2 separate regions of the Homo sapiens genome follow, and region 1 is linked to region 2. The links come from fine-mapping of genetic effects on gene expression. A gene starts in region 2. The other region holds a variant in brackets. All regions are shown on one strand. Distances are from middle to middle.

Evidence for each region. PIP is the estimated chance that this variant, and not a neighbour inherited with it, causes the effect. A credible set is the group of variants that fine-mapping cannot tell apart.
Region 1: its variant is the best candidate, but not a certain one, in a credible set for the expression of EDN3 in esophagus mucosa (GTEx, PIP 0.54).

The regions. Positions count from the first base shown.
Region 1 is chr20:59,385,650-59,390,031 of GRCh38, reverse strand. No RefSeq gene overlaps it. Among named protein-coding and RNA genes, the nearest start is that of EDN3, 87 kb to the right of the region's middle. The variant C/G (reference allele first, on the strand shown) is at 1,672.
Region 2 is chr20:59,298,860-59,303,241 of GRCh38, reverse strand. It overlaps EDN3 (endothelin 3), which reads right to left and starts at 2,631. Exons shown (of 5, transcript NM_207034.3): 1 at 2,378-2,631; 2 at 1,520-1,832. The coding sequence starts at 2,429.

The sequences.
Region 1 (4,382 bases), 87 kb before region 2:
GTTCCAGAACATTCCAACAATGTCCTTCTGTGAACACCAGCGACTCTCCTCTGGGATCTCCCATAACTGGAGGCACCATGGAGTTCTCATGCCCAGAAGCAGCCCTGAGCCAAGGATGGTGGGAGTTGAATGAGACCCCAGTTTCCTTGCCCCACAGCCTGCCCGGCACCATCTCCCAGAGCCCCCTGGTGAGAACCAGCCTGGGTCACTCGCTGCTGTGATGCGCTGAGAGCATTACTTCACTCTTTCCTCTCTACCGCTTTCTCGGGGTCTTAGGGCTGTTACCTGGGATTGCCTCCCAGAGCGGCTGCTTGCCCTCAAAGCCTTGTCTAGGGTCTGCTTCCTGGGGACCCCAGCTTTAAACAACCAGCTACTATTATGGGTTGAATGGTAACCCCCAAAAGATGTGTCCACATCATAATCCCTAGAATCTGTTATTGTGACCTTATGGGGAAAATGTCCTTGTGGATGTGATTAAGTGAAGAATCTTGTGATGAGATCACCCTGGATTATCCTGCCAGACCCTAAATCCAATGACAGCCATCCTTGCAGGAGAGAGGCAGAGTGAGGCCTGACACACAGAGAAGAGGAGAAGGCCACGTGAGGACGGAGGCAGAGGATGGAGGCAGAGATGGGAGGATGCGGCCACCAGCCAAGGACACCCAGAGCCACCAGAAGCTGGAAGAGGCCAGGAAGGAGCCTCTCCTGGAGGCTTCAGAAGGCGCTTGGCCCTGTTGACGCCTTGATTTTGGATTTCTGGCCTCTGGAATGGTGAGAGAACACATTTCTCTTGTTATAAGCCACTCAGTTTGTAGTCACTTGGTACAGCAGCCCCCAGGAAACTCCTAGAGCTGTCTTCTGTCTTGTGGGAGACTCCTGGGGCAATGGTATAGTATTGGGGTTATAACTCATTCACAGTTCACTTGAATTTTATCCCTAAGAAAAGTCACGGGCCATGGGAGAGATTTCAAGCAAAGGCGTGATATGGCCCAGTCGTGTTTTTATTTTTATTTTTGAGGCAGATCTCACTCTGTCACCCAGGCTGGAATGCAATGGCACAATCTTGGCTCACTACAACCTCCGCCTCCCAGGCTCAAATGATCTTCCTGCTTCAGCCTTCCTAGTAGCTGGGACTACAGGCACACACCTCCATGCCCAGCTAATTTTATTTATTTATTTTTTTATAGAGATGGGGTTTTGCCATGTTGTCCAGGCTGCTCTCGAACACTTGGGCTCAAAGGATCCACCCACTTTGGCCTCCCAAAGTGCTGGGATTATAGGCATGAGCCACCATGCCTGGCCTCCCAGCTGTGTTTGGAAAGGGTCTCTGGTTGTTGTGGAAAATGCAGACCAGAGCTGGGATGAAGGTAGGTTTCCCAGGGAAGGCCTAGGTCAGACCCTAAGCTGCTCCTGCCAACCTCGCTTCCAGGGCAGGCAGGCGTTGATGACGGACATCTGTGTTGACAACTGCATCTGCAGCATCCAGCGCCCATTCTGGGCCAGCCAGCAGCTCTCTGAGCAGGTAGGGGCATCCCTGTGAGGGTCCTGACCACCCCAGCAGCCCCAGATGATGCTCCCCATGATGGAGGTGACCCCCTAGCATGTACTTTGTGCCAAAGGGCCTGGCTCACAGCTTTTCAGAAAACCTGAAACCAAAAGGTAATTTACTTC[C/G]CTTCTCACCGAGGTCACTTAGCTGTCTGCCAATCATATTTCAGATGTGATCAACCTGGTCGCACCCTCCTCTTCTTGACCTGACTTGCAAAAACCCAGTTGAATGAATCTCCCTCCACCACAGGCAATTTTCCCTTGGGGAGAAAGACAGCTCGTTCTTTTTGACACTGGTGAATGTCCTTTAGGTGTGATATATGGCCTCTCTTTGACAACCAAGGTGGTGCACCCAACCTGAATTTATTCTTTTAATATCTCAGCCAAGGAGTGATTGCTCCATGTTCTTTATTCTCTTTGATGAAGCACTTAAGGGATTACCTGTACCTTCCGAGCTGAAGTGCCGCTCAGGAGAGAAAGGAAAGGGGTATGGCCCTATGAACTAATGGAATTAATAACTTTGGGGCAATTTATCTTCTCTTACTGACTTCCCACACCCCTTCTTTCCATCCCTACTGCCAAGACCCATTAGGGACACCAAGTTGGCAGTGAAAAACTGAGAAGCACTCTAAAAATGTGCAGGGGGTGAGACATTTGGGCATTTCTTTCTTCGTTTTGTTTTTTAGAGACAGGGTCTCACTCTGTCACCCAGGCTGGAGTGCAGTGGTGCCATTATAGCTCACTGCAGCCCCGAACTCCTGGGTTCCAGCCATCCTTCTGCCTCAGCCTCAGATGTGACAACAGGCATGCACCACCACACCCGGCTAATTTATTTTATTTTATTTTCTTGTAGAGACGGGGTCTCGCGTTGTTGCCTAGTCTGTCTTTGTAAGGAAAGAAGGAAACTTCCTTATCCTGTCACTACACAGCTGCAGTTAACTGTACCCTTTGTTATGGCCCCTCTTGAACCAAAACAGGGAGCTCCCACCTGATGATCAGCACCTCCTCAGCATTTTCTCTTGCTACCTCACAAGACGGTAAGCTCTCTTTGGAGAAACACAAACATCTCCTCCCGCCATGCCCTGTCCTGGTGTCCCAGGCTCTTGGAGATGCTCAGAAAATAAACAGAGAGGTGGAACAGCATGCACATGACAGCTGATGATGGATGTTGTGGTGACTCCCAAACAGCTTTCCCCACAAACCCTGGAGCCCTGCACCCCAGCCCCCCCGAGCCTCCTCTCTAGGCCTTCTGCGTTGCCAGAATTGTGATGGACGGTGGGGCCATCATCTGTCCTTCTCCCTGTCCTTCTGGCACACAAAACAGTGCCCAACATGAGGACAATTGGGAGGGGTTGGGAGAAAAAATAAAACTGTTCATGTAGCCAAGAAGCCAGGCGAGAGGATTTATCATGCATTCCTCATGGAGGCCACTCCCTCCACCCCCGACCCCTGACTGGCTCCAGTTTAAACATTCCCTTTTGTGTTTGAGGAGAATGGATGGAATTTGCATGTTTCTCTTCCAACAGCAGCTAGTGTCTGGGGACAGGGTTGCTGTGGCTGACACGTGGAGACAGCCATCATCAGCCAAAGGGAGAGGACTGGAGGGCCCCCAATGACCACCATGGAGCTGAGACAGAGCTTGCTGCTCCTCTCTGACACCTGATCCCCACCACTGCCACCTGTATGGCTATTGAGCCTGGACTAATGGAGAGGAGGGAAACTGAGGCACAGAGGGAGGGGGTGAGTGAAATGGAAAGGTGTGGAGAAGAGCTCCAGCTGGTGTCTGAGCCCAGCTATCAGACTCCCCTTTGACCTGGTGTCTCTCCTTTCTCTACCTGGTGTCTCAGTTTCCCCCCTGGAGTTTGAAGGGCTGCACTTGGTCAGAATTTGCTAAAGCGTGGCATTACGATGACAGGAAAAATCTCTGTCTAATATATCCACAGGCCCTGAACACTCACAACCTTCCTTGTGAACAAAGCTGGACTCAGGCTCGGAATCCTCTTCAGGCAAGGGTCTCCAGCTAGTAACACTTGGTTTCTGTTTTTCAGTTACCGTCTATTAAATACGGCAAGGAGTAATGATTTCCCACTTCTGACCCTGCGTAAAGAAATCTATTTAATGTTTTTAAGAGGTGAATTTATTTAGAAACAAACATGAAAATAGCACAGGTGGAAGTGAAACGGAACAAGCTTTATGGAAGGGGAGCCAAGTTGTGTCTAATTAGGCCGTGATTGTGTCTGTGTCCCCAAATGCAGGACATGAGGTCCTCCGGGCCACCCTCCCTCCCAAGTCTAAGATTCTTTGAGGCTACAGAGATTGGCTCAAGGTTTGGGACAACCAGGCAAGGTTGAACAATAGGCTAAGAGGACAACCTGTTCTGAGCAGATGCCCTGCACGTCCAAAGGTCAGGTTGGGGTGGGTTGTCTGAGTTTCAAGAAGAAGGAACGCGAGACCAGCGACAGCCCCAATCCTGGAACAGGAGTCTCAGCCCCATGCTGGAGCAGACGAGGAGAGACACGTGCTCGAGTGGCCACAGGGCGCTGGCCACCTAGGCTAACTAGGAAGGAAACTAGCTCATCTCTTTGGGTTTTGTCTGAAGCCTCCCTACTGAACTCACCCCCAGCCCTCCCTCCTATGTCTACAGGGACCCTTAGAGAGAGAGAGAACCTGCCCCTTGAATTGAAAACAGCTCACAGCTTTCTGAACTCAAAGCTCCCAGGCAGGAAGCAGCCTGTCACAGCAGAGGGAGCAGGAAGGAATGCGGTGAAGACAGCTGCATGTCTAAGCCTCTGCGATTCCTCCCATTGGCCCTAGGAGGACTTGCCCAGAGGTGCACG
Region 2 (4,382 bases):
GGTGGACACAGCCCAGCCAGCAAATCAGGGTATCACGACCAGCTACAGAATTTATGGGACCCAGGAGAAAATGCAAATGTGCAGCTCTTTGTTCAGAAAGTATTAAGGATTTCAAGACAGTGACAGCAGGACTTTAAGCCGAGCCAGAGTCTTTCTGAGTGCAGGACTTTGTGCACGTGTCCTGCTGGCTCAATGTGAAGCCCCTGCCTGCCCTTCAAGCATGGTGGGGTGATGTTCCAGATCTATCATGGATGTGATTAGAGGTCTTGTCCCCTGGTCTGAAAGACATTCCACCCCTCAGGTTTACTACCCTCGTCTGCACTTCATTTTTGAGGTGCCGATGACACAAGGTAGGTAAGTGAGCCCCATGAAAGCTGCTACCAAGGGCTCAGAGGTTATGGGGCTTGGGGATAAAGGTGACCGTGAGGAACCTGAATCAAGACGGCTCCGGGACACGGTGGCAAAGGTGCCTTTCCAGGCTTCCAGGGGCTTGCATTCACAACCATCTCTGAGTTCTCAGCTAAGAATCCCTAATAGGGTACAAGCAAGAGTCCCAAGAGATCCCATGAACACCCAGGGAACAGAACTTAGAGGTGTCTGATCCAAGTCCCAGATCTTAGAGATGGGGAAGCCAATGCCAGAGAGTTGGTGACCCAGGCAAGGTCAAGCCCTCTGTATGGCCTGCAAGATGATGTGCCTGCAGGAGGGGTTCCCTGAACACTGGGAGTCATCAAAGCCTCCCCCTGTCAGAGCCACACTCTCTCCACATGGCCCCAGGAGAAGGCTGACTTCCCCACTGGACGAACCCCAAGACAAATTCAGGATGGTGCTGTCTAGGCCCTAGGGTAAGAGAGTTTCTAAGGACTGCAGGAGAGAAGGGAAGGCCCTCTGTGACCATGGCAGTGGGTGACTGGAGCCAGCCTGTGGAAGGCCCAAGGACGAGCTGATGTGAATTCACCCTGCCTTGGCATCCAGGGGGGCCCACAGGAAGGAAGGGAGCCCATCCCAGGGGAATTCTACCCCGAGTGGACTGTGCAGGTTCTGTCAGGCTCAGCTAAACCCACCCTTAGACTCCCTGGAGACCAGGATGCTTTCAAGGAATTTTAAACCCCTTGGATCCTGGTGGGGTCAACAGTGAGTATGAGCCCCCTTGGCCCCTGGGGAATGAGATAAACTTTCGGGGCTTTCTCTATCTCAGAAAAGAGGCTCAGAGAGACATCTCAGGTATCTAATCCCCCTGGTCAGTTCACTTCATTCAGAGGGAGGGCTCCTCCTTCCACAGGATCAAACTCAGGATTGAGTTTCTCTTGGGCCAGGCCCTCAGGGGGGATGTGGGTCACACCCCTGACCTGCAGAAGAGACCTGGGCTGGCAAGAGGCCCCAGCAAGAGCTAAAGGCTGTGCCAGGGCAGGCTCTGGGCTAACTGAGCGGGGCTGGGGTGGAGTGAGGTCCTCCTGGGAATGAGCAGATGTGGGCCTGGTCCGGGAGCCACGTTCCTCACCACAAAAGGCTGACTTACTCGGGAGTGTTGATCCAAATGATGTCCAGGTGGCAATAGTAGACACACTCCTTGTCCTTGTAGGTGAAGCACGTGCAGCGCCTGGATCGGTGGTGCTCAGGGGCCCCCTCGGCCGCCTGCTCCTGCCCAGGGCTTCCAGGGCTTGGACCCTGCAGTGCTGTCGGGGCCACAGTCCCCTCGCCAGGGCCAGCCACAGTCTCCTCGCCAGGGCCAGCCACAGTCTCTTCACAGTCCCCCTCAGATCTGGCTGCAGTGGGGGCCTGGGACACGCCGCGCCTGCCAGCATCCCCAGACTGGGAGCAAGGCACGAATCCTGCAGAAGGCAGATTGAGGGGCTCCTAAGCTGAGTGTGCAGACCCCTCAACACCCGCCACCCCCAAACACCTGAGGAGGGGGGTGGAGCAAGCAAAATGTCTGCAAAGTTTCCAAAGCTCTGCGCAGTTTCTGAAAAGTTTCCAAGCTATCTGCACACTCTGTGAAAAGCTTGCAAGCTATCTGCACCCGTTGAAAACTTGCATGCATTTTGCATACTTTCTGCAAACTTTGCCAGGGTTTGGCACAGCCTCTGAATAGTTCGCAAACTTTCTGAAAAGTCCCCAGTTTCATGAAAAATTGACCAAGTCGGCCCAGGCAGCAGGTCTCCAGCCAGTGCGCGGGCTGCAACTCCCGGAGCCCGTGCGGGTAGTCGTTGCGCGCCGCTTCTGCTCCCCAGCCCTCCCCCAGGCGTCTTCACGAGTGCAGAGCCCAGGCAAGAGTTTGCTCCCCGCGACGCACATCTTCTCCGCGCCTCGGGTCCCCCGCCCTGGGTCCTTTTGTGTGCGCTCGCGCCAGGAGAGGCGCGCCGCCCCGTGCGCTTACCTGCGGCGGAGGTCACTGTGAGCCCGAAAAGGAGCCACAGCCCCGGCTCCATGAACCTAGATCAGGCGCCGGAGCACCGGACCAGGAGGACGGCCGCTTGTGGCCGCGAAAGGGCACTGGGGCCGGGTACAGCTGGCCTCGCCCTCCAGCTGTGGGGGTTCGAGGCCGGCCGATCGCTCGCTGCGTCTCCAGCTCCGGCCAGGAGTTGGCTGCGGCGGTCATAAACTTTCAGAGCGCGCTGCCCATCCCTGCGCGGAGCTGGCCGGCTGTGGCTCGGGCTTTTCTGGCTTCTGCACCACCCCCGTCGCCTCCCCGCCCCCCAGAGGGGCTGGAACTGCCTCGCCGGGCCTTTGAACCCGGGCGCACTGGGGGTCGCCTCCCAGGCGCTGGGGGGAGCTGGCCAGGAGCGCAGCGGCCCGAGGCGCACCCAGGACAGCGAGGGGCGGGGGCGGCGTGGCGTGGCGCGGCTGGGTGGGGTGGGGTAGGGTGGGGTGGGGGCCGGGACAGCTGCCAGCTGCCGGAAGGCCACGAGAGCGCGCGCACACACGCACACGCGCGCTCACACTCACAGGCGCACCCCCGCCCGCCAGTTCGCCGCTCCGGAGTAGCAGCCCCCCATCCAAGAGCAAGAACAGATGAGAAAAGGCTGTGCTCAAGGGGTGTTATCTTTTCTATCAGGGGCTGAGGGAAAGACACATTTCTCATTGTTCCCCGAGTGACACCTTCCCCTTGAAGAGCCTGCTTGCCAAGGAACTCGGTGTACTTTACACTCTTGACTCACGCCTCGGGCTGGCTCCCTACCTCTCCCAGGAGTTCAGAGCCTGCGTGTGGGGCAGTGGCCTGGGAGCAAAGTCAACAAAGATCCTGGGTTAGCGGTCCTGTGGTGTCCAGGGCTTCCTCAGCCATCTGCACAGGTTGGGTGGCTTCAGGTGAGAGTCGGGCTCCTCTCCCTAAAGGCCAAGTTCATTCACACAACCGTCCCTACCAAGGGAAATGACCTCCCAAGAGAGCCCCCTACTTCCTTCATAGCCTTCCAAGTCCTGTGTGTGGGAGGCTGTCCCCATCTCCAGCTCAGATAAAAATGTCTGAGACTGGGAAGTCCTCCTGACTTCTCAGGGCACTTGTGGTCAAAGGACCCTCCTTTCATAACAGATGGGGTTGGGGGAGGGGCAGTGCTTCACATCTGTAATTCCAGCTCTTTGAGAGGCCAAGGTGGATGGATTGCTTGAGCCTGGGAGTTCAAGACCAGCCTGGGCAACATAGCGAGACCTCATCTCTAAAAAATGGGGTTGAATTGGGTCCTGCCCTCTACTAGCCTTAACGACCAGCTTCTGAAAACTAGAAAGCAGCTGAAGTGACCAGAGCAGTTTCTGAGGACAGTCCAAAAGAGTGCTACAACATCCCCCTGGCTTGATAGCTCAGGACACCTGTCCTCTGAACACAGCTGCTGTACCAGGAGGAAGCCCTAACAAGCCCACCTGGAGAGATCACCTGGAGAAACCTACGTGGAGAGAAACCGAGGCCTCCCAGCCGACCACCAGTGTCAGCCACTGACCTGAGTGAATGTGCCTTCCGATGATTTGAGCTCCCAGCCCTCAAGACTTCCAACTGAGGAATAGCTGTCCCGCTGTACCCTGTCCGAACTTCCCACCCACACAATCCATGAGCATAATAAATGGTTGTTTTACAGCACTAAACTCTGGGTAAATTGGTACAGAGCTGCAGTAACTAGAGTAGCACTCAAGCTTCCAGCACTGAAGCTGATGCTGAAGTTCTCCATCCCCCCACTCCCATCCCATCCTGCCTAGCCCTTGAATCCAAGTGTTTATTTGTTTGTTTTTGCACTTGATGCTTTGAAAATAAGAAAAACCCAAGACTCACAATATCTTCTGTTCCTGCTGGGCTAGAATTTGGATCATTTTAGTATTATCTTTGTTTGTTGGGGCTACTATAACAAAACGCCATAAGCTGGGTGGCTGATAAACCGCAGAGTTTTATTTTTCAC